Homo sapiens: one gene and its partners. The protein of the gene in region 3 interacts with the protein of the main gene of each other region in a biochemical or structural test. Each region holds a gene or a part of one and is shown on either strand. Other genes may lie near its edges. The genes, in order: MYO6, SKP2, CDH1 and YES1.

Region 1 (7,000 bases), on a different chromosome or scaffold from region 3:
AAATGTTAAAACTGGCTGGGCGTGGTGGCTCACGCCTGTAATCCTAGCACTTTGGGAGGCTGAGGTGGGAGGATCACTTGAGGTCAGGAATTCAAGACCAGCCTGGCCGACATGGCAAAACCCTGGCTCGAATAAAAATACACAAATTAGCCCAGCATGGTGTGTGCCTGTAGTCCCACCTCACCTACTCAGGAGGCTGAGGCATGAGAATCTCTTTTTTTTTTTTTTGAGATGGAGTCTTGCTGTGTCACCCAGGCCGGAGTGCAGTGGCACGATCTCAGCTCACCGCAAGCTCCGCCTCCCGGGTTCACGCCATTCTCCTGCCTCAGCCTCCCATAGCTGGGATTACAGGCGCCCGCCACCATGCCTGGCTAATTTTTTGTATTTTTAGTAGAGACGGGGTTTCACCGTGTTAGCCAGGATGGTCTCAATCTCCCGACCCTACGATCCGCCCGCCTTGGCCTCCCGAAGTGCTGGGATTACAGGCGTGAGCCACCGCGCCCGGCCGAGAATCTCTTGAACCTGGGAGGTGGAGGTTGCAATGAGCCAAGATCATGCCATTGCACTCCAGCCTGGGTTGAGACTGTCAAAACAAAAACAAACAAAAAAGGTGTTAAAACTTTGTTTTTGATGTCTGATATATAATAATATGGTCGTCAAGATTTCATGTTTCTTGAGCATTACTTTGTGAAAATGAGTTTTTTTAATATATGTTAGATTTAAACTGAATAATTTTCTATCATTTTATTTTACTCTTACACATAGTGAAAAACAAAATAAAATATCGAGCTGAAGCCTGCATTAAAATGCAAAAAACTATTCGAATGTGGCTTTGCAAGAGGAGACACAAACCTCGGTAAGATGAATAGTTCCTAAAAAGAACTCTACAAAACCTAGTTACTGTAATACAAAATGACAATAAAGTCATAATAAAAAGCAGTTTGGATACTCAGGTTTTCTCATGTTCTTTGTAAAATGATGTATTAGTCTTTTATTTGTAATATTTATTTGAAGTTAGTTAATTCATTTATTACCTTATTACTTGCCTCATTCTATAAAAGGATTTGAAGTGGCATACAAAAATGTGTAAAGACTATAAAACAAGAAGTAAGTAGTTGAGAGAAGCTCTTTTATTCTGATTATTTTAGTTATTTGAGTTTCTTGATAATGTCAAGGTGACATTTTTTAAAAAACATCTCACTAATATGTTTACATAATTTTCAAGATTATCTGTAGGAATTACATTGTCCCATTATAAATTAGTGTATTTCTTATTTGAATCTTTCATTTTTAATTTACACTTTTAAAAATTGGAAGTCTGAATATCTCTATTGATCCATCACACCTTTTCAAAGAGACTAGATTAATTTCCTCTGTGATTTGAATTCTCAAAGTTGTAGAAGGCTTTAATCCCATTGACAGGCATCAGTGTCATTCACACTCATATTTGATTTTTTTTAGCCTTCAACAAGAGATCTGAAAAAGAGAATAGTAGATAATATTGAAAACAGAAGTGAAATACCCTGTTTAGCATTTTATAAATGAAAAATCTGCCAAAAGTACTAAAGGATGAAATTAAGCTCTAATGAAGTATTATTTTTACAGCATTGATGGTCTGGTTAAGGTGGGCACACTGAAAAAACGACTTGATAAATTTAATGAGGTAGTCAGTGTGTTGAAAGATGGAAAACCCGAGATGAATAAACAGATCAAGAATCTGGAAATTTCTATTGATACTTTGATGGCCAAAATTAAGGTATGTAATTTCAACCCGAATGACTTTGACTTTTTATGTAATTTAATATATTTTGTTATTGGTATTGAAATTGTATAGAAAACGTCCTTAGTTTTTCAAAATTACAAAATGTGTTGAGACTCAATGATGGCAAGTACATGCTCATCATTATTACCTCTACTCTTTATGTTTGAAAAATTTCATAGCAAAAAGTTAAAGAAGACAATTTTTATGCCATTTCTTCTGTTGCTAAGAAAGATATCCCTCGCAACTTAATACCTAGGTGATGGGATGATCTGTGCATCAAACCCACCATGGCACACGTTTACCTGTGTAACAAACCTGCACATCCTGCACGTGCATCCCTGAAATTAAAATAAAAGTTGGAGGCCATACATGGTGGCTCATGCCTGTAATCCCAGCACTTTGGGATGCTGAGGCGGACGGATCATGAGGTCAGGAGATCGAGACCATCATGGCCAACATGGTGAAACCCTGTCTCTACTAAAAATACAAAACTAGCTGGGTGTGGTGGCGTGCACCTGTAATTCCAGCTGCTTGGGAGGCTGAGGCAGGAGAATCGCTTGAACCTGGGAGGCGGAGATTGCAGTGAGCCAAGATTGTGCCACTGCACTCCAGCCTGGTGACAGAGTGAGACTCCATCTCAAAAAAAAAAAAAAATGAAAAAAGAAAACTAAAGTTGGAGCAAAAAGAAAATGGCCGGGCACGGTGGGTCACGCCTGTAATCCCAGCACTTTGGGAGGCCGAGGCAGGCGGATCACAAGGTCAGGAGATTGAGACCATCCTGGCTAACATGGTGAAACCTTGTCTCTACTAAAAATACAAAAAAAAAAAATTAGCCAGGCGTGATGGGGGGCACCTGTAGCCCCAGCTACTTGGGAGGCTGAGGCAGGAGAATGGAGTGAACCGGGGGGGCGGAGCTTGCAGTGAGCCGAGATCGCGCCACTGCACTCCAGCCTGGGTGACAGAGCAAGACTCCGTCTCAAAAAAAATAAATAAATAAAAATAAAAGTGGTGGGGCATGGTGGCTCCTGCCTGTAATCCCAGCACTTTGGGAGGCCGAGGTGGGCGGATTATTTGAGGTCAGGAGGTTGAGACCAGCCCAGCCAACATAGTGAATCGCCGTCTCTACTGAAAATACCAAAGTTAGCCAGGTGTGATCGCACGCGCCTGTAGTTCCAGCTACTTGAGGCAGGAGAATTGCTTGAACCCAGGAGGCAGAGGTTGCAGTGAGCCAAGATTGTGCCACTGCACTCCTGCCTCAGCGACAGAGTGAGACTACGTCTAAAAATAAATAAATAAATGATAAAAGTAATATAATACTATAAAAAATTTGGAGGCCAGATGTGATGGCTCACACCTGTAATCCCAGCACTTTGGGAGGCCCAGGCGCAGGGATCACCTGAGCTCAGGAGTTAGAGACCAACCTGATCAACATGGCCAAAACCTGTCTCCACCAAAAATACAAAAAATTATTTGGGCATGGTGGTATGAGCCTGAGGTCCCAAGGAAGCTGAGGTTAGAGGATTGCTTGAGCCTAGGAGATGGAGGTTGCAGTGAACAGAGATTGCACCACTGCACTCCAGCCTGGGTGACAGTGAGACCCCTGGCTAAAAAAAAAAAAAAATTGGAGAAACCACCAAAAACCTCTTAATACCTCCACATTAACAAATTCAGTTAGTTACTGTTATTTTTACAGTATAATTTTACTTGTTTTTACTTTACCTTACATTCTCTTTTATGCATACATTTTTACAGTTCTTATCATAATATACATTTCAATTTCTATCTCTACCATTGTTATATACTTGTCCATGTTAATACATTATCTTCATAGATACGATAATGTAATTAATTTTGTGAAAATAGCAATTTCCTCTCCAATTTTGTAGGAAAAAAATGGGATCCCTTATTTTGTTTTGATTTTTATTTATTTGATTACTAGTGGAGTTGAAGACTTTTCTATATGCTTGTTAATTATATTTCATATTTCATTAATTACATTTCATATCTTCTCATTATATTTTAGAGTTTTAATGCTTTTTCTCAGTTTCATAGGTCAGTGCAAGTATGTGGGATATAATGAATATCTTAAAGTGAGCGTTTTATATTTTCTGCAGATATTTTATGTAAACAATGGCAATCTTGGAGGTAGAAAGGAAAAAAAAGATCTGGAGGAAAATGAAAATGCTATAAATAGACTCAGCTGATTTTATAAATCTGTCAAGGGCCATCTTTGTTTATGTGGTATCATTATAAATTAAAATTAACCCACCCACATTTTTTGAAGGCTAATTTTAGAAATCCAATAATTTTGGATATATTTTGTAATTTTTAAAATATTCTCTAGGTACTATTTGAACATTATTCTAAAATAGTAGTAAACTATTGCTAAATTAGCTGATCATTACTTAAGAAATAATTCTTTTTGAGATAAGAGGCTTGCTCTGTTGCCCAGTCTGGAGTGCAGTGGCATGATCTCGGTTCACTGTAACCTCCGCCTCCCGGGTTCAAGCAATTCTCCTGCCTCAGCCTCCCGAGTAGCTGGGACTACAGGTGTGTACCACCATGCCCAGCTAATTTTTGTATTTTATTTTTATAAGAGACAGGGTTTCACTATGTTGGCCAGGCTGGTCTCGAACTCCTGACCTCAGGTGATCTGTCCACCTTGGCCTCCCAAAGGGCTGGGATTATAGGTGTGAGCCACTGCACCCGGCCTAGAAATAATTTTTAACTGCAGTATATTACCTTATCCACAGATTACCTGTCTAATTGATGTGTAATACTTGTGTGCAGAGATAACATAAAACATTTTTTGAATAGTATTTAATGTACAAACAGTATAGTAAAGATAACGGACGTATTGCTTACCATCTTACCTAGTTTTTGCTGTATTTGCATATTGGAGTAGTTTTTTATTTTAAATTGTAAAAAACAATAAAAACATTAAAATTTATCTTAGCCATTTTTCAGTTTATAATTCAGTATTGTTAAGTATATTCACATTGTTGTGCAACAGAAGAAATAAGCTTTTACGTACCTATTTATTTTATTTTTTAAAGTCCACTATGATGACGCAGGAACAAATCCAGAAAGAATATGATGCACTGGTTAAAAGCTCAGAGGAACTCCTCAGTGCATTACAGAAAAAAAAACAGCAGGAAGAGGAAGCAGAAAGGCTGAGGCGTATTCAAGAAGAAATGGAAAAGGAAAGAAAAAGACGTGAAGAAGACGAAAAACGTCGAAGAAAGGAAGAGGAGGAAAGGCGGATGTGAGGCATTTATATTATTTTGAATAAGAGACTTAAAGAAATAGTGAATTCTTGGTATTGACAGTGGTTAATGACAATTATTTGTTTTGTTTTGTTTTTGTGACAGGGTCTTGCTCTGTTGCCCAGGCTGGAGTGCAGTGGCGCGATCTTGGCTTACTGCACTCTGCCTCTCGGGTTCAATCGATTTTCCTGCCTCAGCCTCCTGAGTAGCTGGGATTACAGGTGCGCACCACCACGCCTGGCTAATTTTTGTATTTGTAGTGGAGACGGGGTTTCACTATGTTGGCCAGGCTGGTCTCAAACTCCTGACCACAGGGGATCCACCCGCCTCGGCCTCCCAAAGCGCTTGGATTACAGGCGTGAGCCACCGTGCTCGGTTGACAATTCTTAAAACTGTGTTCTTATTTTAATGAACTAATTTTGTAATAAGTTTGAAAATTGAGAGAATAAGGTCATTTTATAATAGTGATACCATAAAATAATTTTAACTATAATCTGAATTTGTTAGCCTCTTACACCTGAGGATTTTCTTCTTTTTAAAACTATGATTTGTTTATTGTTTTCTAAGCTAGATAAATGACACTTCTACTTTTCTGCAGTTTTAAAACTGATAACATTTTGAAAGATTGCCATGATAGGGTAGAGAGAACAGATGAGTTGTTGACTTGGAGAGGGACTAGAGGGAAGCACCTTTAATCAGGACCTTACAGCCAGGCTTTGTAACCACATTCATCTAGAGATGTTAAAAGTTATAGAATATAATTATATTTGTTTTATTTAAGAATTATTGTCAATAGAGTTAAATTTTATTTTATTCAAAATAAGTTGATGTATGTGGCCAGGAGGTTAATTTGCATTCCCAATCTGTTACCTTTGTTTATTATTAAATAATAGTTAAATTGCCTTCTGAAGGATTCTTTATTTTCTGTTAAATTTTTGAAGAGTTTTCTATTTTTTATTAGGAAACTTGAGATGGAAGCAAAGAGAAAACAAGAAGAAGAAGAGAGAAAGAAAAGGGAAGATGATGAAAAACGCATTCAAGTATGTACTTACTGGGTTGAATTTCTATTAAAATGGAACCTACAGGCTGGGTGTGGTGGCTCATGCCTGTAATCCCAGCTCTTTGGGAGGCCGAGGCGGGCGGATCACGAGGTCAGGAGATCAAGACCATCCTGGCTAACATGGTGAAACCCCATCTCTACTTATACGAAAACAAATTAGCCGGACATGGTGGTGGGCACCTGTAGCCCCAGCTAATTGGGAGGTTGAGGCAGGAGAATGATGTGAACCCAGGAGGCAGAGCTTGCAGTGAGCCAAGATGACACCACTGCACTCCAGCCTGGGCAACAGAGCGAGACTCCATCTCAAAAAAAATAAAAAATAAAAAATAAATAAAATAAAATGGAACCTATGAAAGAAGTGAAAATGAGATCTTGATTTGCTAGATAAGCTGTCACTAGTTTATCCTAGAGACCAAAGGCCAGTTTTTGAAGTGGTTATGGGAATGGACTTTGGAGCTAGGGAAGTGGGTTCAAATCCAAGATCAGTCACTGACAGAAATTGTGACATTGTACACATTATAGTGAGGAACTATGGGTCACAGTTGTCTCTCTGTAGAATGTGGATAAATAATAGTTGCAAGCATTTGACAGTTAATACATGTTAAAGCATTGTGAACACTGTGTAGATCAATAAATATTAATAATTGTTTTTATACCTAGGGGAAAGTCAAATGAAAATTCACTTAAAATGTTAAGTTTTAAAATATCATATAACTTTGTAGATACTGGAATTAATAAATTAGGATTAAGAGTCTCTCTCCACCCCTAGTTTTTAAAAAGTCCCATGTTGAGAATAAATTGCTCATGTATTTGAATTTCTGTTTGTCATGGCTTTCATAATATATCCTAAGCATAACCAAAACTTTAAATTCCTGACATCTGCTCTCTAGGTGTTAGTGTTAATGGGATGCC
Region 2 (7,034 bases), on a different chromosome or scaffold from region 3:
TCTTCTTACAGCAAGGCGTAGGGGCCCATTACAATCTGGTCCCTGACTCTCCTCACCTTGTCACTCTCCTCCCTTAGTCCTGTGCTCCAGCAACTTCCAACTACGTAAGAGTTTAGAACCACACAGGAAGTTTTACCTAGACTGGTTGCTTTGTCTTATTACCTAGAGATCTCCTACCTAGATATCTTCAATACTCAAGAGTCACTTCCTCTAACAAGGCGGCTCCTCGTGTGTTGCCACATATTCACTGAAACATTTAATAAACACACTGCATGGTAATTATCTGTCTTGCTCATAAATAGTTTACCTTCTTGCAAGAGAAAATAGACATGTCTTGCTCAATGTTTCCTCTTGCAAGAAGGTAAACTATAGCTTAACCAGCATTCACTAACAAGGTGGGAAAAGTTTTAGAGCATTCATTTTCTTCCCAAATAATACACATGCATTGTTCATCCTTGTACTTGTATCTCTAGAACCTAGCACAGGGCCTGGCATATAGTTAGCATTCAAGCTTTTGTTGCTTCAATGAGTCCTGAAAAGTTTTGCAGAAGCTAGAGCACTGCACTAGATATTTTCTGTATCCACCTGGATATGGCTAGAAGGGCACCCCAGTTATATACAGGGAAAAAAATTCATACACATAAAATCAACTGCCTTTGTGACACTCTGCCTGCCACTCACTTGACAATGGGATCCGAAAGCCGCAGGCCTTCCAGGCTTAGATTCTGCAACTTGGAACACTGAGACAGTATGCCGTGGAGGGTGGACACTTCTATAACTGAGTTCGATAGGTCCATGTGCTGTACACGAAAAGGGCTAAACACGGAGAGAAAAAAGGAGCTCCATAGGTGGCTCTCACGGGTACATCCAATTTCAAACCAGACCCCTCTTCTCCCCAAATGAGCAGCCAATCACAAACAAGACTCTAAATACATACTTCAAGCATTAACTATAGGGTCATAAAACATATTGCTACTAGTGTATTCCCATCTTCATTCATTTTAAAATGCAAGAGGATTTTTGCCAAGTACAGATGTTGCTGCCAATATAGTCCCACTTAGAAAATAACGAGTGGGCATCACAACAATGAGCTGGATGTGGGTGACAAGGAGATTAAGACCATAACGGCTCCTGGTTTCTGGCAGGGGTGAGTGGGTGAGCAGCAATAGAACAGGGAAGGTAGCGGAAGAGAAAGTTTTAAAGGGAGACCAGGCTGGGCGCAGTGGCTCACGCCTGTAATCACAACACTTTGAAAGGCTGAGTCCAGTGGATCACGATGTCAGGATATCAAGACCAGCCTGGCCAGCATGGTGAAACCCAGTCTCTACTAAAAATACAAAAAATTAGTTGGGCGTGGTGGCGCACACCTGTAGTCCCCAGGTGCTCGAGAGGCTGAGGCAGAATTGCTTGAACCTGGCAGGCAGAGGTTGCAATGAGCCGAGATCACGCCACTGCACTCCAGCCTGGGTGACACAGCAAGACTCCGTCTCAAAAAACAAAAACAATAAAAAAAAAGGGAGGCCAAATTTGAGTTATGCTAATATTGAAGTCCTTGTAAGAAATTCAGGTACAGACGTTTTTAGGTAATTAGAAATTTGGGAATTTGAAAGGGAGGGCCAAGCTATAGATGAGGAACTGAGAGTCCTGGGCATAAATGTGGGTGTAGAGGACACAGCTTGTCCAGGGACAGCATTTGGATTTGAAAAAGGTGGCAGCCAGGAACCGACCCTGGAGTGAACAGAGGAAATCACATATGTGAAGGAGACTGAGAAGGAACAGCCACAGGAGGAACAGGATAAAAAGCAGTGGGAGAGGCGGTCCTGACTACGGAAAGAAGGGAAAAAGTACTGGAGTCAGGAGACATGTTTTATCTTTAGCTTTGTTGTCTTCAGCTTGTTTTTCTGTTCAGTACCTAGTTATTCTACTATGTGATAGCAGTAACCTCAGTATTGCAAAATTATCAGAACAGAAAATTCTTTTTCAAAATATTCTACAAAACAAACAAAAAGAGGGCATTTTTTTCAGGTTCCAAATTTCTCCAAGACAAAAATCATAAACCCCAAGCTACAAACATGAAAAGACTCCTCACTTTTTTTTATTTATCAGAAATGGGCATTGGGGAAGTAACTGGGCACCCTTGCATCTGCCAGTGAGTGCTTTACTTGTGCCTGCCTTGTGGGACTCACAGTCCCCCTATCAGCTGAGGACTTGAGAAGACAAATGTGCCTCTTTCACCCTGGGAAGAGACTAACAGTAAACTTGAGTGAAATGGGAACAGTGTCATTGAAATCTATGCTAGGTTTTAGCACAAAGGCCCCATAGCAAAGTATGGAATTAACATCCCACACTGCACAGATAACCTACCATAGGCTTTAAGGCTGAAGAAAGAAAAAAAAAAAAAAAGCTTTGATCTGTTTCTACCTCGAAATTTAGAAATAGTCTTTTCCAGGGATTTTTCATCTTTACCTGAAATGTTCAGCCAATGGTTGGTCCATAAATGATCGTGGGCAGCGGAAGGCAATCACCCCTTGAGACAGCAACCGACCAGTCACATCCGGGTGCAGATTTTTACCTGTGAGGTCTAAGGTCTGCCATAGAGACTCATCAGACCTATAAAAGAGGAGATACTTAATTTGGCCAGTCGGTCACACTAAATGCTGGAAGCCCTCAACAACATTACTAACAGGTAGGACACTGCTGCTAAATCTCCTTGAAGCATATTCTAAAAGAACTTTTGTTTTTAAGTTGGCTATACAATTAGCTATGATATTTTTAAGGCACTAGAGAATTTTTCTTGATTTCACCAGGGATAAGCTTCCATCTTTCTCTTTCTATATACTTCCAATTTAGATGGTTCAATGTGAACATTAGCACTGCCGTGATCTAGAACCAGAGAATCATATTCCAGCATTCAAGTTGACAAATTTAAAAAATGATTGCTCAAATCAATTAATTATTATATTACTAGGCAAATAGGATCCTCTAAGAAGTTTTAAATCTATTTGACACTTTTGTCAAGCAATTATGATTACTGTAGCAACATGGAAAATTACTAAAGGAACGAAAGTTAGCATTATTTTATTATGAAATAAGGCTGTCATAGATATTCAATAGCAACAGTCATGGTTCAGCTGTGCCTTATAATATATTTGAAGCTTAAAACATACACGTGTATATGTATGTGTACATATGTGTGTGTATGAACTAATGTGAAATAAGGGAAAAATACAACGGATTATAGATGGTGTTTCTAAAACAAAAGGGATGTTCTAAAAACGTACTGAATAGCACAGTAAGAGGGTTTTAATATCCATAGTTTAATTCAATTTAAAAAAAGAAAATGTGAAATATAAGCACATGAAGGAACATTTTAAATGCTTAGGTGTACTAGAATTTTCTTTTTTAATAGTGCTTGAAATAAGTGGACCACTGGCCAGAGTTATGAAATAACTTCATCATAAAAAAATTGTCAGTGTGATTTGTGTGACAAATCTATCATTAAAAAGGTGGACTGTAGATAAGATATCCTTAAGAGAGTGGCACACTTTTGTATCTTTCTTGCCCAGACAGAAATCCATTTTGGCCTCCAAGGTATTGGTATTGACACCAGATCAGCACTGCTCTGGTTGTCTTGAATCTCATGCTTGATGTTTCCTCTTGCAAGAAGGCAAACTATAGCTTAACCAGCATTCAATAACAACAACCTGGGAGAAGTTTTGGAACAATTCATTTTCTTTCCAAATAATATACATTTTTTAGGAAGATGAACACCTCACAGAAAAATGAATTTGGGAGCTACCTGAACCCTAAGCCAAGCATAACTAGATATGGTATGATGGTTAAGACCGTGGAGTTAGCCAAACTTTAGATTCCTGCCTTTCCACTTATCTCTCAACCTACTATTCCTGACCCTGCAGTTTCCTCACCTCTGAAGCTGAGATGACACAAACACCATCACTTAAAATCATATGGAGGATTAAATTGCAAACACTGCACCTGTCACAAAGCAAGTGCTTAATAAATGTCAGTAATTACTTTTATGACAACTGAGATGAAGTTTAACAGACTCTAAGGGAGATGTAGGTCAAAGAATACAAAGCCACAGATATGCAGGATGAACACATCCCAAGATATAGTATACAACAGGAGAACTAGAGTCGATAATACTGTATTGTAGTCAGAATGTTTGCTAAAAGAGTAAATTTTAGGTGCTTTTGCCACAAAAAATAGGTAACTATGTGAGATAATGAATATGTTAATGATAGCAGCCATTTCACATACTTATAACAAAATATCATGCTGTATACCTTAAATATATACAATAAAATTTTAAAATGGGATTAACAGACTCTGCAAGAAGAGGATAAATGCATAGCTGGCAGAAAAAGAAAACCAAAGTGGGGTTGAGTGCGGTGAGGGTAAGTGAAACTTGCCTGCCACTTGCACCAGCATTCCAGGTGTGCAACCCTCTCTGCGGCTCTTCTAAGCAAACAACCCACACCTGTAAATAGCAGCACGCCCTTGAAGGCAAGAGGCTCCTGCTATCTCACACAGGGAGTTCTAAGTATGTGGAGGGAGAAGCCAGACGGATGGCCTTTAAACACAAAGCAAAGAATGACCAGGAGGTAGGATAGGGATGAGAAGGCATGAAGATAGTAAAAAGTTCCAGTTGATAAACATAGCCTTTTTCTTGCTCCAGGCCTGTTATTGCCTTTCCAGCTCACCAAGTCTTTCCACATGCAACTCACCTTCCACACTTGAAAAGTGTTGCCAAAAAAAGAGCACAACCCCACCAATGGCTACTCTGTGTGGAACATGTCTGTGAGTCAGGCATTACACCAGCATCTTCACATTTCATCCTCATAACCAGTGGTTTCCTCCTCATAACCATTATCCCCATTTACATATGGGGAGACTGAGGCTCAGCAGTGTCAACTAACTCACTCAGGTCATGCAGAGCGTAAGCAGCAGAGGCTGGGTGTGCACTCGGGTCTAACACCAAGCCTGTGTTCCCTCTCCCTATTGTGCTCACTGCTCAGCCCAGCGGCGTGAGGAACCGCTGTCTGCATGCACCTCTGTAACTCTCTCCGCACTTAAAGCACACCGCCTGGCCTACAGTCAGCATCCCATAAACACATGCTGCACTGAATACAGGGCAAAGAGGTTTCCAGACATTGGTAAGTTTATCCCTCCCAGGAAATTCCTCTTCCACTGTGAAATGAGGACACTGATTAATAAAAATATGAAGATACCTAGTTTGCTTTGCGCTGCTCTATTTTTCTTGGTTTTTAGTTTCATCAGACCAAAACGAATAAATAACCTTCCTCTCCTCTTCCTCCCCTACGTTTGCCAAAGGGGTGAAAAATACTTACGCTAGGCGATACCACCTCTTACAAACACCAGAGACCTTTAGCAGCTCAGGGAGGCACAGACAGGAAAAGATTCCCAAGAGCAGCTCATCCGGAAGGGAGTCCCATGAAACACCTTTGGAGGGAAAACAAGTGTTTGCCATCACCATTCTTTCACCCTATCAAGTCTACTGAGTCTTTTCAAACACATAAAGAATATACAACATTTAGCTTAAATGAGGAATTTAGCACAAATTAAATTACTCATCCTCACAATTATTTTTGTTTGAAAAATCATTTCTGTTGAACAGAAAAATAATTGTGGTGATGAGTAATTTAATTCGTGTTAAATTCCCCATTCCATCATCTATGTACCCTGAAGTGACCACCACACTCTCTCAGCAAATCAAAAAGAGAAACCCAGAACACTTTTCCTATTCTTCCCTTCAGCTCTAGCCAGCCAATCGGAGGCTGTGGCATGAAGAGTGGTACAGAGCAAGTCCCACCCTCTCAAATGTCATTCAATGACATTGTCAATTCATTGACATCAATAAGATATTGTGGTGCTTCTGGGTGCAAAGGAAGGCCTTGTTTCTCTCTGATGTGGACTCAGTAGTGACCTTATTTAAAAGGCAAATAAATCTTCTTCCCTTTCTGCTATGGTTGGCTGTGTCCCCACCCAAATCTCATCTTGAATTGTAGTTCCCATAATCCCCATGTGTTGCGGGAGGGACCCAGTGGGAGGTAATCAAATCATGGGGACGGTTACCTGGTGATAACCGCCCCTGTAATTTGATGCTGTTCTGGTGATAAGTGAGTTCCCACAAGATCTTATGGTTTTACAAGTGGCTTCCCCGACCCCTTTGCTCTGCACTTGATGCCGCCATGTGGAGAAGGACGTTTGCTTCCCCTTCCACCAAGCTTGTACGTTTCCTGAGGCCTCCCCAGCCAGGCTGAACTGTGAGTCAATTAAACCTCTTTCCTTTATGAATTACCCAGTCTTGGGTATGTCTTTATTAACAACATGAGAACAGACTAATATGCTTTCTTTCAGGTTTACAAAAGGCACAGTTTACCTAAAAGAGCAATACAAAAGGGTATTGTCATTTCTTAATTCAACAAATATTTACTGAGCTCCTACTATGGTGCCAGGTATCATTTTAGGTGTTGGGAAGGAGTAGTAAATCAGACCCAAAACACTACCTTCGTGGGACTTCATTCCAGTAATGCGGAACAGATAATCACACATCAAAAAATAAGTACATTATATGATATAGTAAAATTGATCTGTGCTGTGCAGAAAAATTAAACAGGGCAAGGGAGAGAACAGAGAGTTCAGAGCAGATGTTATTAAGTTTGAACATGGTGGTCAGGGAAGGCCATACTGAGATGACGATCACTAAGCAAAGGCTTGAACAAAGTGAGGGAGTGAGCCCTGTGAGTATCTGGTGTACGTGTTCTAGATCCAAGGAACAGCATGTGTGTTTGAGGCATAGCAAGGAGGCCAGTGTAGAGCGCAGAGGTAGGTGGGTAGAAAAATCAGAGAGCAGCCAGGTCATGCAGGCTTCCTAGGTCATGATAAAGCCTTTGGCTTTGACGCTGAATTCTATGAGGCACCACTAGAAGATTCTGAGCACAGGAATGACAGGCCCTCACGTAAGTTCAAAAAGGATCACTCTGGCTGCT
Region 3 (7,034 bases):
CTCCAGATGTTCATGACAGGAGAGGAGGTGGCATGTTGCCACCATTTAGGAACTACTGTATTGTTTGGGGGAGCTGGTCTGCAGGAGTCTGCTTTTAAAAATAAATAAGGATTATAGTAATCATTGCTTCAGCAAGAATCATCCACAGATGCCAAATCCATTGGGTGAAAATTAGTTGCTGAACAAGATATTCTCAAATTATCTACCTGCAGATTATAGGTTAATCATGCAGTGAAAAAAGGCACCTTTGCTGTGAAGAAATCTGGTGGCCTTTCCCTTATCCAAGTGATCAAAGTTATCAATAGAAGCACAGACAGACATCATGTGCCTCCCAGTGTCCTGCACTAGGGAGGCCACAGCATCACCTCTGTCCTGTTCTTGCCCCCACCGACCCCTGAAATGGATTACCTGAATCTAAATTTTGAGGAATAATCAGACAAACCCAAGTTAAGGGGCATGCTACAAAACAACGGCCAGCACATTTCAAAAATGTCAGTGACAGAAAAGAAAGACCTAAGGAAGAGCCATGCCAACGAAAGGCCATATTGGATCCTGAATCCAGAAGGGTGCAAGGTTGCTATAAAGGACATTTTTGGAAAATCTGACAATTCGAATATGCACCATATATTCGACAATAGAATTCTATCAAAGTTTTGTTTCCTAAAATTGAAAATCAAGACTGGTCACGGTGGCTCACACCTGCAATCCCAGTGCTTTGGGAGGCCGAGATGGGTGGATCATCTGAGGTCAGGAGATCGAGACTATCCTGGCTAACATGGTGAAACCTCGTCTCTACTAAAAATACAAAAAATTAGCCGGGCGTGGTGGCGGGTGCCTGTAGACCCAGCTATTCAGGAGGCTGGGGCAGGAGAATGGCATGAACCTGGGAGGTGGAGCTTGCAGTGAGCTGAGATCACGCCACTGTACTCCAGCCTGGGCGACAGAACGAGACTCTGTCCCAAAAAAAAAAAAAAAGAAAAGAAAAAAAAAGAAAATCAAATTGGGGTTATATAACAGAATGCCTTTGTTCTTAGGAGATAACACATTGACATATTTATAAGTAAAGGAACATGACTTCTGCAATTTATTTGCAGATGGTTCAGCAGAACAAGAAATTATGTAGGCGTGTGTCAATATAGACAGAGCAGATGTGGCAAAGTATTAACAATGAGTAAACTCAGGTGAAGAGTTCATGGATGGTCATCATACTATTATAGTAACTTGTCTGTTGTATTGTTGGTTTTCTTGGTTTTCTTTTTTTTTTTTTTTTTTTAAAGACGGAGTTTCGGCCGGGCGCGGTGGCTCACGCCTGTAATCCCAGCACTTTGGGAGGCCGAGACGTGCGGATCATGAGGTCAGGAGATCGAGACCATCCTGGCTAAAACGGTGTAAACCGCGTCTCAACTAACAATACAAAAAAATTAGCCGGGCGTGATGGCGGGCGCCTCTAGTCCCAGCTACTCCGGAGGCTGAGGCAGAAGAATGGTGTGAACCCAGGAGGTGGAGCTTGCAGCGAGCCGACATCGCGCCACTGCACTCCAGCTTGGGCTACAGAGCAAGACTCCGTCTCAAAAAAAAAAAAAAAAAAAAAGAAAGAAAGGGTTTCACTTTTGTTGCCCAGGCTGGAGTGCAGTGGTGCAATCTCGGCTCACTGCAACCTCCATCTCCCAGGTTCAAACGATTCTCCTGCCTCACCCTCCCCAGTAGCTGGGATTACAGGCGTGTGCCACCACACCCAGCTAATTTTTGTATTTTTAGTAGAGACAGGGTTTCACCATGTTGACCAGGCTGGTCTCAAACCCCTGACCTCAGGTGATCTGCCCACCTCAGCCTCCCAAAGTGTTGGGATTACAGGCATGAGCCACCGCGACCGGCCTATTGTTGGTTTTCAAAATAAAAACGTTGGAAGTAACCATATAACTGAAGAAGCGCTTAAGCCGTTTTCAGCTACATGTTGTTTGCTGGTCCTATTCTAAAAGCCAGAGCTTGTCCCCGTTCAGATATCGGATTTGGAGAGACACTGCCAACTGGCTGGAGATTAATCCGGACACTGGTGCCATTTCCACTCGGGCTGAGCTGGACAGGGAGGATTTTGAGCACGTGAAGAACAGCACGTACACAGCCCTAATCATAGCTACAGACAATGGTAAGGGGGCCTCATCTGAGCCTTTGCTGCCTCGACCTCCTAGCTAGTTCAGTTCCTTGCCCCTCCCTTCTTTTGGAGGGAAGAGTTCATTCTTTTTCTTTTATCCTTTTTGTTTGCTGGATTGATTTGTATAAATGTATGGAGTACAAGGGTAATTTTGTTACATGCATAGATGTGTAGTGGTAAAGTCAGGGCTTTTAGGGTATCCGTCACCCAAATAACATGCATTGTACCCATTAAGTAATTGTTCATCATCTACCCCCTCCCACCCCTTGGACCCTTCCCAGCTGCCATTGTCTATCATTCCACAATCTACATCCATGTGTACACATTATCGAACTCCGACTTCTAAGTGAGAACATGCAGTATTTCTCCTTATATGTCTGATTCGTTTCACTTGAGACAATGGCCTCCAGTTTCATCCATGTTGCTGCAAAAGATTTCTCTTTTATTCTTAAACAAAGGCATTCTTATTATCAAAAATTCAAGTGGGCTGGGCACGGTGACTCACACCTGTAATCCCAGCACTTAGAGAGGCTGAGGTGGGAGGATCACTTGAGCCCAGGAGTTCAAGACCAGCCTGGGTAACATGGCAAAACCCTGTCTCTACAAAAAGTACATAAATTAGCTGAGTGTGTTGGTGAGCACCTGTAGGCCCAGCTACTCAGAAGGCTGAAGTGGTAGGATTGCTTGAGTCTGAAAGGTGGAGGCTGCAGTGAGCCAAGATTGCGCCACTGCTCTCCATCCTGGGCAACAGAGCAAGACTCTGTCTCCAAAAAAAAAATTGTTTTTTCAAGTAATTTTGGTCAAACAGAACTTACTTTTCACTACTCACTCTTTATTCCTTCCCTAAGGGAACCAGGTAATGATGGTTTACAATCCATTTCCAAAGCTTAATACTTGTGTGACCTTGGATTTGCTGTTTAATTTTTTTTTTTTTTTTGAGACAGAGTCTTGCTCTGTCACCCAGGCTGGAGTGCAGTGGTGCAATCTTGGCTCACTGCAGCTTCCGCCTCCCAGGTTCAAGCAATTGTCCTACCTCAGCCTCCCAAGTAGCTGGGATTACAGGTGTGCACCACCACGCCCAGCTAATTTTTTGTATTTTTAGTAGAAACGGGGTTTCACCATATTGGCCAAGCTGGTCTTGAACTCCTGACCTTGTGATCTGCCCACCTTGGCCTCCCAGAGTGCTGGGATTACAGGTGTGAGCCACCGTGCCTGGCCTGCTGTTTAATTTTTATGTCCCTCAATTCCTTTACCTGAAAAATGTTAATACCCATGTGGGTGAAATTAGTTAGGTGTTAAATCAGTTAGGTGTGGGTCCTTCCAGACTGCTTCTGTGTATTTAAATACATTTATAGGCTGGGTGCTAGGGTCACACCTGTAATCCCAACACTTTGGGGGTCTGAGGTGGGAGATGGCTTGAGGCCAGGAGTTCAAGACTAGCCTGGGCAACATACTGCCCATAATCTCAAAATGCTGGGATTACAGGCATGAGTTATCATGCTTGGCCTCCTTGAGTTAATTTTAAATGACGTGTGCTCATTGTTAAAAAATAAAATTTACATGAGAAAAAAGTTTTAAAAATTTACAGTCATGCCATCTAGACATATCTATTTATAGGTTTGAGATGGATTCTTCTGTTGTTTTGTATCCGTATCGTATACTAATATTGATGATAGTTCCCTGGGTACCAATTTTTCCTACTACCATATGCTCCGTGTTGTGTCAAGATATAAAAGAAATGCAAACAGAAGTGTGGATGGGCTGGGCGCAGTGGCTCACGCCTATAATCCCAACACTTTCAGAGGCTAAGATGCGAGGATCACTTGAGCTCAAGAGTTCAAGACCAGCCTGAGCAACATGATAAGACCCCCTCTCTACAAAAAAAATTTAAAAACTAGCCAAGCATGGTGGCATGCGCCTGTAGTCTCAGCTACTAGGGAGGCAGAGGTGGGAGATTAAGCCCAGGAGGTAGAGGCTGCAGTGAACTGTGTTCATGCCACTGCATTCCCGCCTGGGTGACAGAGTGAGACTCTGCCTCAAAAAAAAAAAAAAAAGCGTATGTGAACTCCCCAATCTATTTTGAAAACCAATTTGCAGAGACTTCAAAAGACCCAACTCATCCCCTTTGATTTTAAGCTTCTAGTCAGGCTTAAAATTAAAATAAATAAAAAGACTCAATGCTTTGTTAATGACCTCAAATGGCAGGAAAGTGCAGAAAAAGGAGAACTAGGGAAACAACAGGCAGGCAATAGGACTTCTTGGAGTAGTTAAAATTCAGTGAATGAATAACGATATGTGAAGAAGGAGGAGTGTGTTCTTGGTGTGAGGAATAACTTGAATAATTGTTATCAAGGTGGGAATAAGTTGTCTGTGTAAAACGGCCAGAGACCTGCCCACCTGGGAGTGGAGGTCCTTTGGGATTGGTGGGACAGGAGGTTCTGCGGGTGGAGTGGGGCCTGGTGAGGGACCACTGAAGAGCCAGGACAAGATCTAGACTTGGTCTGGTGGAAGGCAATGGGGATTCATTACTGTTGCCAAGCTGCCACATTTTCTGTGTATTTTCTCTTAGGTTCTCCAGTTGCTACTGGAACAGGGACACTTCTGCTGATCCTGTCTGATGTGAATGACAACGCCCCCATACCAGAACCTCGAACTATATTCTTCTGTGAGAGGAATCCAAAGCCTCAGGTCATAAACATCATTGATGCAGACCTTCCTCCCAATACATCTCCCTTCACAGCAGAACTAACACACGGGGCGAGTGCCAACTGGACCATTCAGTACAACGACCCAAGTGGGTACCTGAGTTTTATTTTGGCAACTTTGCTCCAACTGCCATGCTTCCCTTCCCCCAGATCCCCACCTTTCAATTTCCCTTCTCAACTTCTAGATGTCACCCCTTCCATTGATACTTGCTTCCTTGTCCCTTCTGTCTTTGAGGCCTTGCTCCAAAGGTCTTTTTCCTTTCCTGGTATCTAACTTTGTAGCATGCTACCCAGTAATCTAAAACCCAAGCAGGGCTCCCTCTCCCAGCCTCTAGCCACCCTCCACTCCCCTCTCCACTTGCAACCAGGACCATCTTCTCTGCTACCTCCTGCTCCTGGGACCAAACAACACCATTTTTGTGGTTAGCTCCTTCTTGCCAACCAATCGTGAGCTCCCAGATTCATCAGAACTATTCTACCGAGGTGGAGGCAGCTGTCAACTGCCTGGTCAATTTGCATATATGGGCTTCCTACACCTACTTCTCTCTGGGCTTCTATTTCCACCATGACGATGTGGATCTGGAAGGTGTGCACCACTTCTTCCACAAATTGGCCAAGGAGAAGCACAAGGGCGCTGAGTGTCCCTTGAAAATGCAAAACCAGTGTGGCGGCCGCACTGTCTTCCCGGACATCCAGAAGCCATGTAAAGATGAATGGGGTAAAACCCTGGGTGCGATGGAAGTCACTCTGGCCCTGGAGAAGAACCTGAACTGGACCCTTTTGGATCTTCATGCCTTGGGTTCCACCTGCACAGACCCCCATATCTGTGACTTCCTGGAGAGCCACTTCCTAGATGAAAAAGTAAAACTCATCAAGAAGATAGGTGACCACCTGACCAACCTTCACAGGCCAGCCGGCCTCCAGGCCGGGCTGGGCAAAAAGGTTCACCCTCAGGCACACGGGAGCCTACCGAACCCAGCGACATCTGAAGAGCCCCGCTCTGCCTAAGCCTCTCCCTCCAGCCACTAGGCAGCTTTTTTAAACCAACTCTAGAGCCCTCTCCCAAGCCTTAGACCAAATGGAAATAAAGCTTTTTACAGCAAAAAAAAAAAAAAAAAAGTACATACCTAAATAAAACCCAAGCAGCTCTGCTCTCTTCACTCGGCTTGCGGGTGTCTTTAGTTCACTAGCAATTTTATTCTGGAATGAGCTTTTTATTTTCCTCCCCTGGTCTCATCATTTCTTTTTATTGCTTTCTCCAGCCCAAGAATCTATCATTTTGAAGCCAAAGATGGCCTTAGAGGTGGGTGACTACAAAATCAATCTCAAGCTCATGGATAACCAGAATAAAGACCAAGTGACCACCTTAGAGGTCAGCGTGTGTGACTGTGAAGGGGCCGCTGGCGTCTGTAGGAAGGCACAGCCTGTCGAAGCAGGATTGCAAATTCCTGCCATTCTGGGGATTCTTGGAGGAATTCTTGCTTTGCTAAGTAAGTCCAGCTGGCAAGTGACTCAGCCTTTGACTTAAAAAAATGGAGGAGGTTTATTTCCTGGAAATGATTTTTGTTCTTATATTAATAAGGATATAGGTTAGCTGATGTGGGAAAGAGACTCCCAAGTTATGCCAGCCTCCATAAAATAGAAGTTTGTCTCTTACTGAACATTTCAGAGGTAAATGGTCTAAGATGGGAAGGCCATGAAGTCAACAGGGGACCCAGGTTTCTTCTACCTTGTCTCTTTTCATTCTTCAAGACAGTGCATCCCAAGCTTGAGAGCATACAAATCATCTGGGCCTCTTTTTGAACTGGGAAATCTGATCCAGGAGGTCTGGCATAGGGCCACAGATTCTGCATTTCTTTTTTTTTTTTTTTTTTTTTTGAGATGGAGTTTCGCTCTTGTTGCCGAGGCTGGAGTGCAATGGTGTGATCTCAGCTCACTGCACCCTCTGCTTAACAGGTTCAAGCGATTCTCCCGCCTCAGCCTCCTGAGTAGCTGGGACTATGGGCATGTGCCACCACGCCCAGCTAATTTTGTATTTTCAGTAGAGACGGTGTTTCTCCATTTTGGTTAGGCTGGTCTCAGACTCCCGACCTCAGGTGATCCACCCGCCTCAGCCTCCCAAAGTGCTGGGATTACAGGCTTGAGCCACCGCACCCGGCCAGATTCTACATTTCTAA
Region 4 (7,570 bases), on a different chromosome or scaffold from region 3:
CAATGTATTCTAACTCCAGTTTTGCAGTGGCTGTTGCCTGAATTGTGTTGAGGATTCTGAGGATGGTATTAATGCTCTGGGGGAGAGTATATGCTATGCCATGGTCTAAAAGCCATGACTGCCATGGGCAAGCAGGAGGAGAGACTGACCTGCCAGCTCTGTTCTAGGTTTGGGGTCTTCTATGTGACAAAAGTCACAAGTCTCAAGTCTCAGTGTTGGGGTCCCACAATCTCTTATCTCCCACCTCTGGCTGTGCCTGCTTCATCCTCTGTGAAAACTGGATTCCCCATCCCACTCCCACTGCCTCTCCAAGCACGTGGCAGGAGATGCCACCCTCACAGCTCCTGAGTTTACTGTTGGCTGCACAAGTAAGTAGCAAAGACTAAGTAATGGTTTTCATTTGCAAAGAACAAAAATGGTCTCTATTGAAGCATAAAGGGAATTTATTGGAGGATGGTGAGAATCAACAGGAAGACTAGAGGAGCAGGCTCAGGCAGGAAGCAAGGAAGGCAAGACAAAGTCCAGGTTCTGCCACGGGGATGGTATGCTCATGACGCAGGCACCACCAGCACTGGAATCCTCTACCCCTGGACACTCATCTTCTGTCATTTGACTCAACTCCACCATGGTTACCATGAATAATCACTAACCGAGTTACTTTTGTGTTACTCCTCAAAATTCAAACTTTCAGCCTAGAACCTGGGATTAGCAGTACTCAGATCATAGGCCTACATGCCACCTATCGAAGAATTAATTCTCAGAGAAGAGGAACTTGAGTTAAACAGGCACCCTCAAGAGGTGTCCACTACAGGCTGTATTCTACTCGGCAGAGGGCATGTAAGAGGATGTAAGGTGCTCATCTGGCCTAGAAACTGCTGTCACCAAACAGAGTGAGAAACCAAGCTGAGCCTATGAAAGTCTGAAGCTGTGGGTAAAGCTACCTAGGAATAAGCAGAGTGGTACCAGAAGCTAGAGCTGAAACCAGGGACTTTGGTAGATAAAACAGGCCTGGGTCAAGCTGCAGAACTAGAAAGAATTGAAGTCAGAAATAAAACAAGAGATGTCCCCAAAGTAGATTCCAGTAGCAAAGACTATACTGCCAGAAAATAGTTCTGGAGCGGAGAAGGCATACTCAGCACAGGGTTAAATTCTAAGATTGTAAACCAGGTAGTGAAGAAGTGAAAAGCTAGAGAGAGCAACAAAAGGGAGCAAGATGGAGACAGACTTGCTGAAGTTCATGTAAGATTGCCATGTTTGACATTTATTAATTGCAAGACACATTTGATTGACAAATATTCATTGCAGGATATGTCCTTCTATATCCATTTATTTATTTATTTATTTATTTATTTTGAGACGAAGTTTTGCTCTTTCACCCAGGCTGGAGTGAAGTGGCATGATCTCAGCTCACTGCAACCTCTGCCCCCGGGGTTCAAGCAATTCTCCTGCCTCAGCCTCCCGAGTGGCTGGGATTACAGACGCATGCCACCATGCCTGGCTAATTTTTGTATTTTTTTTTTTTCAGTAGAGACAGGGTTTCAACATGTTGGCCAGGCTGGTCTCAAACTCTTGACCTCAGGTGATCCACCCACCTCAGCATCCCAAAGTGCTAGGATTACAAGCTAAGCCACCGCGCCTGGCCCTCAATATACATTTACTTAGGTCGCTTAGACAGTCTTTTCCCAGTTGAGGGGAAATAAAACTGTAATATAGAAACCACAGTCCTTGAGGCAATGAAGACATCAGGAGCATTGAGAACTTGATGAGTTGGTGCATTTCTCCACTGAGCTTGGCACAATAGGCCCAACACTCAAGGAGAAATACCTTCCTTTTTCCTGATCTTCCAAATTAATCCTTAGAGAGGGGTTCTCATATTCTTCCTAACTGGGCATAGGAGCAGTCTTGGCCAGGTGGAGGCGGCAAAGCTAAGGTGGTGCAGACAATGTCAGGCACTGAATGGATTTGAGGAAGGTGGTGAGGGGATGGTTGTTAGAAAAGAGGCACCTTGTGTAGGGCTGCAGGCTTTTTTACTGTTACCAGGAAGAGAAAATCATCATAGCCTCAGTGGCGGAAGCAGCAGCAGCAGCATATCACTGATAGCACGTAGGAGAGGTTTACCCTAAACAAAAACATTTCCTGGTAGAATCACAGGTTCCAAGGTGGTACTGAGTGGGCCCTAGTTCAACTTTCAGCTTTTCAAACTTCCAGCCAAATAATTTTAAGCATTAATCAACTTACATAAATGAAAGCATTTTACTTTTATAGGGACCTAACATATCTCATAAAGTTTGTTTGTTTAAAGCTTTCCCCTAGCTTTTTCCTCCAGCAGACATTTCCAGGGGTTTCAAGACTTAAGTTCCTTATCACTCCCTAACACACATGTACATACCACACCTCTATGCTGTGCAGGAGGGAAAAGTAGGGGCAAGCTTATTTGTCCGTTTCAGGATGAACAGATTAAAAGCAATTTTTGTTACACCAAACTCAGTAAGACTTTCCAGTTTTCTCTTCCTCATTAAAAAATTTTTTAAAAAATATTCCTGGAAACAAGTGAGCCACTAAATGTAAGATTGAAAACTTTCCAGGTTATTTACAGACTGAAGTTTGACATTGATGAATATACTAAAAAAGAAATCAGGGAATGTAGTAATAAAAAAAAAAAGGGAGGGCGAAGAGAAGCAAACTCAGTAAGTCAATGTAATCCATAACTTGTAGGTGACATTCTGACATACTCTCCCAACTTTAAAACTCCATATAGAACATCTTCAAAGCCACCTTACCCCTTAAACTGGGGCAAACTACTATTTCATTTCATTATTATTTTTTAAAATATATTTTACTAAATAGATAGGAGGTCTCCCATGTTGCCCAGGCTGGTCTCCAACTCCTAGACTCAAGTGATCCTCCTGTCTTGGACTCCCAGAATGCTGGGGTTACACGTGTGAGCCACTGTGCCCGGCCTATTTTAGAGGTGATTTTTGAGACTGAGTGTTTAGGAAGACGAAATTATCTCTATTTAGTGAAGAAAGGCAACAGCTCAAGGAATTTTCTATTTTAATAAAAGCTGAATATAGACCTACATAAAATTTTAAAGCCCTGAGACAGTCAATGACAAATGAAGTTTTAGTAGCTAAGAAAATACAGCATCGTTCCACATTATGTGTCTCTTTAACGCCTACGCCTACCTTTCGTTCATTTAGTGAGCTGAAGAAAAAAATGTTCAAACCCTTATATGCATTTCCTTAAGTTCCTAGAATACCGGAATACTGACACATATGATTGCACTATTTCCTATCCGTCGAAGATGATTCTGAATTTCACTAAAAACCGCAAAGGAAACCAATAGTCACAAAATAATTCTGATAACCCCACCAAAGAGGAAATAAAGAGAGGAAGTTACTCTAAAAGTCTGATAGGGCAAAAGTGACTGCAGCAGAAGGGCCTCAAGGTTCAGTCCATGAGGACCTTGATTAACCTTCATCTTTACGCCCCCACCCCATCCTTCCGGGTCCTCCCCCTTCTTCAACGACTGGCTTTACAAGGCTCATAGGAAAGGTGCGTGTATTCAGACGGACACGATTCCAGCTGTGGCTCCTCCACTTTCAGGGTCGCTGTTTCCACAGTTGACAAGCAGGAGAACCATACTTGTTGCACTTCCCTCACTGGGCTGCCGCCAGCATCATATAGAAAAACGCTGTCCCAACATAAGCCAAAGCCACCATGACTGGGATAGTCGCCAAACAGAACTCAGCTTCGGTTCCCCTCCCGGCAAGGCTGGTTCGACCTACAGTCAACAGGAAGCTCCTGGGGGCAGGGACAGGATCCCTGCCTCGGAAGGAGGCAAGACGTGAACGTTTTTTGGACGGCGATCAGGATGGTGATGAGGGTGTGAGTAACGCCCCCGGCTCACGCGGTTGGGCTTGAGATTTTACTACCAACGACAAAGGGTGCGGAAGCGTAGCGCTGAGAAGCAAACAGCCAACCAAAAAAACTCAACCCCGTCCTCCCCCACAAAAGCAAGCCCCAAAGCCCTGGCCACTACTGAGAGCTGGGCCAAGGAACAGAGAAAGGCAGAGGGGCAGAATCGGAGCGCTCCATTCAATCTCCGCGGCAGCCGAGCGTCGGTGGGTTCGCGGGTGGGAAGGGACGCCGCGGGCCTGCTCTCCGGGCAGGGAAGCACCTCCTCCTCACGCCCCCTCGGCCTGCACCGCCCCCGGGAATCCGCCCCGGACCCCGCCGCCATGTTGGGTCGGGAGAAGTGACACGGACCGGTCGCCTATCCTGACCACAGCAAAGCGGCCCGGAGCCCGCGGAGGGGACCTGACGGGGGCGTAGGCGCCGGAAGGCTGGGGGCCCCGGAGCCGGGCCGGCGTGGCCCGAGTTCCGGTGAGCGGACGGCGGCGCGCGCAGGTACCCGCAGCCCCCGCCCCCGCTAGAAGTCAGGGGGCGGGGCCGGGGGGGGGGGGCGGAGGAGGTGGAGAGTGAGGCCGAGGCGTGGGGAGCCCGGGAACTCCCTCCTCCTGAAGTAACGCGTCCCGGGCCGGCTCTGCCGTCGTTGCTGCCGCCGGGCGCCCCGGGACGAGGAGGTGGAGGAGGGAGAGGGCCCGCGGGCCTCGCCTCCGCCCTCCGCCACCTCGAGCTGCGGTAGCAGCGACTCATGAGAGCGCGGCCGGAGGACAGGTAAGGACCCGGTGGGGCCCCGCGGGCGGAGGGTTCCACCTCTGCCCGGACAGGGCTAGGCCCCAGCGCCCGGAGCCGCCGCCGCCGCCGCCGCCGCGGTTCCCCGCCCCCGCGGGCCCGAGTCGGGAAGTTGGGAAGAAACTTCTCCCCTCCCCCGGATCGCCCGGCGGGCTTGTCTCGTTCCCCGCGCTACCTGCTCGCCCCTGACTCGGTCTCTGCCCTGTCCAGACCTGCCGGGTCCCGCCCAAGTCCGACCTGAGGTTCCAGGGGCGTGGGGACACTCCCCACCCCTTGTCTTTGGGGTCGTGTGGACCGCCCGGCGACGGGGAGGAGAGGTTTATTTTTGCCCCTACGGCCGAAGTAGGGGCGAGGGAAGCGGCCCCTTTGGGTCCTAAAGGCTGGGGGTCTGTGTATCGGCCGACGCCGGTAGCAGCTGTGCGGGGAGAGGAGCGGGTGTGTGGGGCGAGTGGATGAGCCTTTCTGGCTTTACTTGGTTTGATTGAAAACCGCAACATGTTTAAAGTTTTCCTTTGTTTTGGGTTGGGGGTTGGGAAATTTACCATTCAGCGTCCACTTTTACGGAATCATGCCACTCCGCCTCCCGTTGCGTTCGGTTCCCTGTCCACATGTGTTAAAGAAAATTGTCTTAAAGTGTGTTTTTCTTCTTGATAATTGCTTCCAGCTTTCACTTTATTGGGCATGGGGCAGAGCTGTTTTAAGAAGCTCTTTGAAAATCAAGTCTGGTGTAGGGACTTTAGTTTTTGTTTTGTAATGAGTAGGACTTAACAGTTCGGATTTGGTTGAATCATTTTCTGCATAATTAATTGATACAGGCGTGGAATAACATACTGTATAATTATAAATTACTAAAGGAAATAATGAAAGTCTTTGGTGGAAGCACAATTTTATGTCCATTTATTATGTATATACGTTCCACGGGTGTGTGTTTTCACAGTCGATTTCACATGATATGATTATAGTATCTTCATGTATTATAACTGTAAGATTACAGTGCCAAAGATACCTTGATAATTTTAAATATTTAAACCATCCTGTTACACTTCTAAAGTTAAATTACGCACTAAGGAAAGTATTACTAAATGTATACACGTGACTGTGCATTTAAGGAAAAGTGCATGGTAAATCTAATATCTTAACTATCACAGTGCTTGGCACACGGTGGACAGGAAGCATTTTGAATGGTCAGGTAATAAAGGAGTATCTTGTATTAGCCAAGGATCTTGTATGCATCACTTACGATGTTCATATATTGTACAGTAAGAAAGTTTTACTTTAGCAAATAATATATATGGTTTTTTGGTTTTTGTTTGTTTGCTTATAAGTGTGAGACCCCTGCCACAATTGACATGTAAGGAAAGGAAGTTAAATTGTATTTTTATTTTTGGACATTAGCTAAAAGTCGGTGGAGATTTTAAATGCTGGTTGACAATTCAGAGGGTCCTACATTTGAAAAAGACAATTGCCTTTGATCTGAAAACAAAACAGTTTATATCCATGTTTCCAGGATAAAAGATAAAAGGGCTCTTAAAATATATACTCTGTTGTAACCACTGTAATGTTATAATGGCTTTAATTTCGTAGTTAGGTTTTGCTGACTTCATAAACCACAAAATTGATTCCTTTCTGTTCATCTGAAAGTGAAATTACAGCTTTGACCTGTCTTCCTGGGTTAGGTGGAATTTGTCTTGTGGTCGAAGTATAATATTAATACATGGGCTGTTTTTGTGTGTGTGTTTTAGTTCAGGAAATTCACAAGCTGAAAAATTAATGTCTATGCAAGTAAAATTTCTTCATGGTATGTATTGATAAAAGAATAAATGTGCTAAAAGACTAGAAGTAAACCTGTATAAGTGAAATATTACCAACCGATGGTGTAAGACTTACTTATTCAAAGTTGAAATTTGCATCATGTTAGACAGTAAATGATTTACTACTATGGCTAGTTTTTCTTTACAAAATCAGTGTAGACATCGTTTATTCTATTAGCATTATAGTAAGAAAGAAGACTAATGCCAAAACAATTTTTTAAGTGATGCTAAGCGCTGGGGTCACCCAAACTTGGGTAATTAAAAAAAAAAAAAAACCTGCAAGGAAATTCTGTGAACGTAAAAATAGAAGCATAGAATACCTGTGGTTCTATGAAGGGAAATATATGGGAAGAGGGAGGAGATTGTGATAGGGACCTGGCTTCTGAAGTGGTGACAAAGTTCTTTTAACCTGGTAGGAGTTACCAAGGGTATTGGTCTTAGTGTAATTCATTAAGCCCTACGTTTGTGTGCAGAATCTGTTTCTATGTTTTATTTTACATGAATTTGTTGTTGTTTTTTTAAGGAATCCAGTGTGTAATGTCTATATAAGGTGCTTGGTTTAAGAACATAACTTGGTGGCTGACTTTCGAACACTACCTAGGCTATCCTTTGCAAATAGGATTAGATTTATTAAATCATAATTGTCATATACCAGCTGTATGTATAACTACTTTGAACACGTCAGGCTGGGCACGGTGGCTCACACCTGTAATCCCAGCACTTTAGGAGGCAGAGGGAAGGGGATCACTTGAGGCCAGCAGTTTGAGACCAGCCTGGCCAACGTGGTGAAACCCCATCTCTACTAAAAAGTACAAAAATTATCTGGGTGTGGTGGCGCGCCCCTGTAATCCCAGCTACCTGGGAGGCTGAGGCACGAGAATCGCTTGAACCCGGGAGACAGAGATTGCGGTGAGCTAAGATAGTGCCAGTGCATTGCAGCCTGGGCAACAGAGTGAGACTGTCTCCAAAAAAAAAAGTCAAATACTCCGAAATGTACAATAATTAGAGAATTTTTGGGAAAAAATTTCTAAATAAAGTTCTAGTTCGTTTTCTTTAATAAC

The links.
Region 1: the proteins of CDH1 (region 3) and MYO6 form a complex in vitro, tested with the Homo sapiens proteins (one study listed by BioGRID).
Region 2: of the proteins of CDH1 (region 3) and SKP2, one has a biochemical effect on the other in vitro, tested with the Homo sapiens proteins (one study listed by BioGRID).
Region 4: the proteins of CDH1 (region 3) and YES1 form a complex in vitro, tested with the Homo sapiens proteins (one study listed by BioGRID).

The regions. Positions count from the first base shown.
Region 1 is NC_000006.12:75,885,239-75,892,238, forward strand, and holds part of MYO6 (unconventional myosin-VI), read left to right. Parts: intron 1-765; coding exon 766-856; intron 857-1,605; coding exon 1,606-1,756; intron 1,757-4,818; coding exon 4,819-5,027; intron 5,028-5,989; coding exon 5,990-6,068; intron 6,069-7,000. UniProt on the Homo sapiens protein: Myosins are actin-based motor molecules with ATPase activity. Unconventional myosins serve in intracellular movements. Myosin 6 is a reverse-direction motor protein that moves towards the minus-end of actin filaments.
Region 2 is NC_000005.10:36,162,095-36,169,128, reverse strand, and holds part of SKP2 (S-phase kinase-associated protein 2), read right to left. Parts: intron 5,485-7,034; coding exon 5,373-5,484; intron 2,611-5,372; coding exon 2,467-2,610; intron 817-2,466; coding exon 682-816; intron 1-681. UniProt on the Homo sapiens protein: Substrate recognition component of a SCF (SKP1-CUL1-F-box protein) E3 ubiquitin-protein ligase complex which mediates the ubiquitination and subsequent proteasomal degradation of target proteins involved in cell cycle progression, signal transduction and transcription.
Region 3 is NC_000016.10:68,817,280-68,824,313, forward strand, and holds part of CDH1 (cadherin-1 isoform 1 preproprotein), read left to right. Parts: intron 1-2,000; coding exon 2,001-2,146; intron 2,147-4,721; coding exon 4,722-4,946; intron 4,947-5,169; exon of another isoform or gene 5,170-5,953; intron 5,954-6,119; coding exon 6,120-6,347; intron 6,348-7,034.
Region 4 is NC_000018.10:809,224-816,793, reverse strand, and holds the start of YES1 (tyrosine-protein kinase Yes), read left to right. Parts: upstream 1-4,551; 5' UTR 4,552-4,680; intron 4,681-7,570. UniProt on the Homo sapiens protein: Non-receptor protein tyrosine kinase that is involved in the regulation of cell growth and survival, apoptosis, cell-cell adhesion, cytoskeleton remodeling, and differentiation.